2 linked regions of the Homo sapiens genome follow. The gene in region 2 interacts genetically with the main gene of each other region. Each region holds a gene or a part of one and is shown on either strand. Other genes may lie near its edges.

Region 1 (3,832 bases), on a different chromosome or scaffold from region 2:
TATTTTATTTTTTTAATTTTATTTATTTATTTTTTGAGACGGAGTTTCGCTCTTGTTGCCCAGGCTGGAGTGCAATGGCGTGATCTTGGCTCACCACAACCTTTGCCTCCCAGGTTCAAGAGATTCTCCTGCCTCAGCCTCCAGAGTAGCTGGTATTTTAGGTGCCTGCCACCACACCCAGTTAATTTTTTGTATTTTTAGTAGAGATGGGGTTTCACCATGTTGGCCAGGCTGGTCTCAAACTCCTGACCTCAAGTGATCTGTCCACCTTGGCCTCCCGAAATGCTGGGATTACAGGCGTGAGCCACTTCACCCGGCCCTATACTGGCCATTTTTTAACTTTAAGAAGCCAAAGTTTCCTGTTTAAATGAGCATAAATTAAATTTTACATACAGCTTGATGTCAACTACATTAGAAAAAGGCCAAAAGGAAATTATGAGAATAGCAGCTACCATGGATGTGTCATACCTTTCCCCCTGTGAATCGCAAAGCACCCATTCCACGATCGGCTCTGGAACGCTCTCAGATATGCAGACCAGGGCGTCCTGGTTTTCCATTTTTCTAAAGTAAGGTCTTCTTAATGTGTAAAGCAGGGTATCTAAAGCATCATAAGTTATTAACATTTTACTATTTTAAAAATAATTCTCTTAGCAGCCCCTCAGAAAAGGATTCTATGTCATTATGAAAAGTTCTCAACCATTACGTATACATATTTTTTTCTTTTTTCATAATAAAGGCATCAAAAGCAAACCAACCATTATATTAAATTTAGCTGTGGCTGCAGTGTCAACTTGAACATTTCTCCTCTTGGCCAATTTCTTTGGGTATTTCACAAATCCACAGCTAACTAAAGTAGTCGAGTGAAGCCATGTGAAAATACAAATATTGATAGGCACAGGAAAAAGGAAATTAGCAATAACATATGGCTTAAACCCTTGTTTAACACATAGTTTAGACCTCAACTTTCTTCCTATAATTTGATCTGCAACTAGGCAGAAATATACTAAGATTTAGAAAGACAGAAGAAACATGGTAGGGTGGAGTTGGAATTGCAACAGAACTTAAGAGGTTTAGTTGAGCCTCCCACTCACCCTGGATCACACACACACACACACACACACCATCCTTCACTCCCAGCTATTTCTAACATAAACTTTCTACTTCTACTTTGACTCTTCTAGAGACTGGAGTTCATGACCTCCCAGGGCAGGTCATTCTAATTTCTGACAAACTTTTTTTTTTTTAAAGAAAGTTTCCCTATACTGAATTCCAGCCTCTCTCCTTACAATAAATTTTGTTTGAAAATACTATGTACTGTTTGATATATATATATATATATGAAAGAATATATGGAGTGTAAATTTCAAAGCATAACAACAACAAATACCCACGGAGCCACTATCCACCTAATAACTAGAATATTAATAAATACCTTTTGATCTACTTTTATGCTTCTCCCCACCTCTCAACTGCACGTATCCTTTATCCTGAATTTTGTTGATTATTCGAGGACTCTTCAAAGTAGTTATACCAAATAAATATGTGGCACTAAACAATATATTGATTTTTTCATTCTTGAGCTTCAAAATAGTGTTATCAATCAATATGTAACTTCTACAACTTCATTTTTTCATCCAACCTTATGTTTTTAAAATTCATCCATGGTTTTACATGTAGCTATACTTTATTCATTTTTTTTTTTACTGCTACATAATATTCTATTGGTAAATATATCATTATTTTTTCATTTTCTTGCAGTAGACATTTGGGTTGTTTCCTTCCGTGTGTGTGTGTGAGACAGGGTCTCTGTCACCCAGGCTGGAGTGCAGTGGTGCAATCTCAGCTCACTACAGCCTCAACCTCCCAGGCTCAAGTGATCTTCCTGCCTTGGCCTCCCAAAGTGCTTGGATTACAGGTATGAGCCACCACACCCGGCCACAGTTTTTTGTATGATCAACCATGTGCTCTGAACATTCTACACATTTGTACTGAGGCATGTGTATAACAGTTTCCTTAATAACATTCTTAAGAGTGGAACTGCTGGTCTACATGGTATGAGCACATTCAGCCTTACACATAATGATCATTTGTTTTCCAAAGTGGTTATACTAATTTATGTTACACAGCAGGATATGAGAGCACCTATTGCTTTATAGACTTACCAAGACTTCTTAATTTTCAGCAATCCAGCAAGTATAAAATGGTATTTCATTGTGGTCTTAATTTAATTTCTCCATTATTAATTTAACATGTGTTAAAATAATTAATTGGGAGTCCATTAGGCTGAGACAACTCTAACAGCTTGAGTTCCTAGGTAAACAAATCACAACACAACTCAAAAAAAAAAAAAGGAAAAGAATAAAGGCCGGGCAAGGTGGCTCACGCCTGTAATCCCAGCACTTAGGGAGGGTGAGGCGGGAGGATCGCTTGAGCCCAGGAGTTCGAGACCAGCCTAGGTAACATGCCAAAACCCCGTCTCTACAAAAACAACAACAACAAAAAGCAAAAAACAAACCCAATTCAATATGAGCAGCAAAATGCAACTTAGCTTAATCAATGAGGAACTGCAAACTGACCAATCCAGGGACTGTCCTTCTTTAAACAATCAAATTTTTTCTTTGTCTTGCTTCCGGGAACACATTATAGAAAGAAGTCTTACCCTTGAATCTCCTCACTGGAGCCCACCTGCTTGCCATCTGGTACTGCCTGATTCATGAATTGCTTTCTGCTCAAATATACTCTTTACAACTTTAAAGTGCCTAAGTTTATCTTTTAACATGTTTCTTGACCATTTAGGTTTCATGTTCCAAAAATGAAATGCCTACTCATGTCCTTTGTTCATTGCTCTACTAGGTTTTCATTTTGTTCGTTTTTCTTATTGACTTATTGACTTATATAGATTGTTTATCTTATTGACTTTACATATTATGACTATTAATCCTTTGTTGATTGTGAACTGCAAGTATTTTTTCCCATCTTGAGGTGATTTTTACTTTTTCTCCCTGTAATTTCTAACAATTGGTTCTTATCATATCCTCTAGAGCAACTTTTTTAAAGTCTAGCTTTGATTCCATATGAAAATCTTTCAAATATTTAAAATCAGAAACCGAGATCAAGGGAGATAATTACCATACAAGGTACTTTAACTAGTTAGCTCAGGTTTCCTGACTCAAATCCCAAAAGAATTTCCTCTGCATTACACTGCAATCAATCTTATCGTCTCCTCAAAACATTTCCTTCTATATACTACACATTCCCAATTCCTTCAACTGCTCCTAATTTAAAGAATTCCAAGTTTTCCACTATCCTGGTTGCTCATTTTGTCAGTATTCATCTTTAAAAAAGTAGAACTGAAATGAATAAGCTTCTATTAATTTCCTTAATTTAGACGTTATATTTTCATGAACACTGCCAAGGTTCAAATTTACTTTTTTGGCAACCATGCCACGCTGGTGGTTAATACTGAGCTTGTGGTTGACTAAACCCTTTCCTCTTTTTCACACTGACTGTTGCCACATCTCTCCCACCTATTTTTTGGATCCCACCACCTTGCAGAATGCTAAAAATAAGTTATAATTTACCTGAATAACTGTTGTTACATTTTTACATTGTAAATCTTAAGTGAAAGGAATATACCCTAAGTATAACAGAGACACAGCAGATGCCCACTTACCTTATACAACTGTTTATACTTGGCAAGAAAATTTTAAAAGGAGAGAAAAAAGGAGAAAGAGGAAGAGAAGTAGAGAACAAGAAACGTCCTAGCTTCATCCAACCTGGGGCACGTATTTACTGTCCCACAGAGGCGGTGAGGGACTAGAAAGGGGGCAGG
Region 2 (2,766 bases):
TTCAGATGACTCGGGCCAGGGTTTCATGATTTGTGATTAACAAACCATGCGAAGCAGATGATCTCTGTGTCCCACGCATTCTATGCAACAGGATCAGAGTATGAAAGAAACGGAATGCAAAATGGTTTTAAAGTCTCTGACTTAAACTCACTATTTTCATAAGAACCAAAGATAGGTTTAGAAGGGAAAGGACTCACTCAGAATCTCGCCAAGGCTGTAAGAGCTGGTATTAGAACCCGCATGAGTGCTTCAGCATTTTTCACACCAAGTGATGGGTGTTACAAACGTGTTATGTATTGATTAAAAGCAGACCTTTACAAAAGCATCTGAAAATTGTGAGCTACTGGTTTAAGGATTTATACTCAAAACTTTTAATTCAACATAGCTTTGACTCAGTTTGTTTCCCTATCTGACAGTCTATCAGTCGGGTGCTGGGGCCTGAACTACGTTTCAAATAACCTTTATATAAGAAGTCTGTTACTAAAGACGCAGTATTGTTACCTCTCTGTTATTAAAAATATAATGCTGGGTCGGGCACGGTGGCTCTCGCCTGTAATCCCGGCAATTTCAATGGTCGAGGCAGGTGGATCACCTGAGGTCAGGAGTTTGGGAACAACCTGTGCAACATAACGAAACCCTGTCTCTACTAAAAATACAACAATTAGCTGGGCGCGGCGGAGCCCGCCTGTAAGCCCGGCTCCGCCAGAGGCTCAGGCAGGAGAATCACTTGAACCCTGGAGACAGAATTTCCTGTGAGCCGAGATGGCACCACTGCACTCCAGCCTGGTCTTCAGAGCGAGACTCCGTCTCAAAAACATAGTAAGACTTACAATATGATACTGTGGAAACAGACACCCTACAATGTGCATGCCTAATGGATTGCCTACCTTCTTCAGGCGTTTTCACCTCCTCTGGATTTGGCGGGTCCATCTCCTGCCCATCAGGACCATCTTCACACTCACACCCAGTCTGTGGGTGACCCTGTTCCTGGCTATCAGCTTCAGGCTTCGGCCCTTAAAAATAAAAAATACGTATCAATTTAAGCAGTAAAACATAACGCATGAATAAGAAAATAATATTCACGCTCTCGGTATTATTATATAAAAGCTTTAGCTAACATAATAATAAATGTGTTGATAAGAATCCCAGGAACATTATTTCAGGAGTCCGTTAGCAGAAAACAGGAAAACAAGGTGTTCCAAATATTACCCTCTTCCTTTCCGAAGACTGCCCTCAGACAACTTTGCTGCCTCCTTTGCACTTCTCTCTTATTCTACTTCTGATTGTCCTTCTCGTATTAAATGACTCAAGGCTCAAATCCCGTCTCTCACAGCACTTACACTCCTAGCGCTTAGACTCTTACATGGCATGAGTAGCCACCAATAAACGCTGAGTGAGAAAACTCTTTTAAAAATACATGAAAAAGCCCAAACTGCAGAATATTCTGCAAACCAACTGGTCTATCCTCTCCAAAAATGTCCGTATCGTGAATGACAAGAAAAATTAAGGAAACATTACAGGTTAAAGGAAACTAAAAACACCTGAAAAGCACATGCAAGGTGTGATTCTGAACTGGACTCTGGATCAGAAAAAGAAATCCTATCAATAAAATTATCTGGGCCGGGCGTGGGGTCTCACGCCTGCAATCCAAACATTTTGGGATGCCAAGGTGGGCAGAGCAGGTGAGGCCAGAAGTTCAAGCCCGCAGTGGCCGGCGCCTGTAGTCCCAGCTACACGGGAGGCTGAGGCATGAGAATCCCTAGAACCTGGGAGGTGTGGGTTGCAGTGAGCCGAGATCGCACTACTGCACTCCAACCTGGCCCACAGAGAGAGACTCCGTCTCAACAAAGAAAAAAAAAAGGAAAAAAGAAATTTTCTGGGGAACTGGCAAAATTTGAGTATGCACTCTGTATTAAATGACTCCATTTTCTCATTGTTAAATTTCCTGATTTTCATCTTTGTGCAGTGATGATCCAAGAAATGACTTTCTCTTTGTTCTGACGATATACACACCCTCAAGTACATAGGGTAAAGGACCATAATACCTGAAACTTTATCGAGACAATTCAGCATTAATAACAGTAAACATATATCCGTATGTATGTGTGTGTGTGTGTGTGTGAGTGTGTGGGCAGCACGGTAAGAGACGGAGGGAAGAGATGTGAAACTGATGAAGCGAAAGCTATTAACAATTGGTGAATCCAGATGAACAGTATATGAGTTCATTGTACTATTCTTGCAAATTTTCTATGAATGCTATGTCTTGAAGATACATACAGTAAAAATTTAAAAGAATACATGATAACTGCACTGAACTTTAGGAAGAAAGGAATTTCCAATTGTGGTAAAAAATACAGATATCCTAAAATTTACCATCTTAACTATTTTTAAGTGGTACAGTTCACTAAGGAGTTACGTTTGCAACATTACCAGCCACTAGGCACAAAAACTTTGCATCTGTGTTTTCCTATACCATGAAAACTTTACTTATTTAATGAATTTATTTATGTATTTATTTATTTATTCATTTATGTATTTATTAGCGATGAGGTCTCACTGTGTTTCCCAGGCTGGGCTTGAACTCCAGGACTCAAGCAATCCTCTCACCTCGGCCTCCCAAGTAGCTGGGACTATGAGTGCATGGCATTCAGCCCAGCTTTAGACCTTTCTCCTAAATGACAATCTAAGGATAAACCACAGGACATGTATAATGCTTATATTCAGCCCTAGAGTACCAACAGCAGTGTGCGTCAGCTGAGAAATCTG

Evidence for each region.
Region 1: changes in GAGE13 (region 2) and FLT3 together harm fitness less than expected from each alone (positive genetic interaction), as found in Homo sapiens cells (one study listed by BioGRID).

What each region holds. Positions count from the first base shown.
Region 1 is NC_000013.11:28,052,077-28,055,908, forward strand, and holds part of FLT3 (receptor-type tyrosine-protein kinase FLT3 precursor), read right to left. Parts: intron 848-3,832; exon of another isoform or gene 756-847; intron 599-755; coding exon 469-598; intron 1-468. UniProt on the Homo sapiens protein: Tyrosine-protein kinase that acts as a cell-surface receptor for the cytokine FLT3LG and regulates differentiation, proliferation and survival of hematopoietic progenitor cells and of dendritic cells.
Region 2 is NC_000023.11:49,334,494-49,337,259, reverse strand, and holds part of GAGE13 (G antigen 13), read right to left. Parts: intron 1,014-2,766; coding exon 888-1,013; intron 1-887.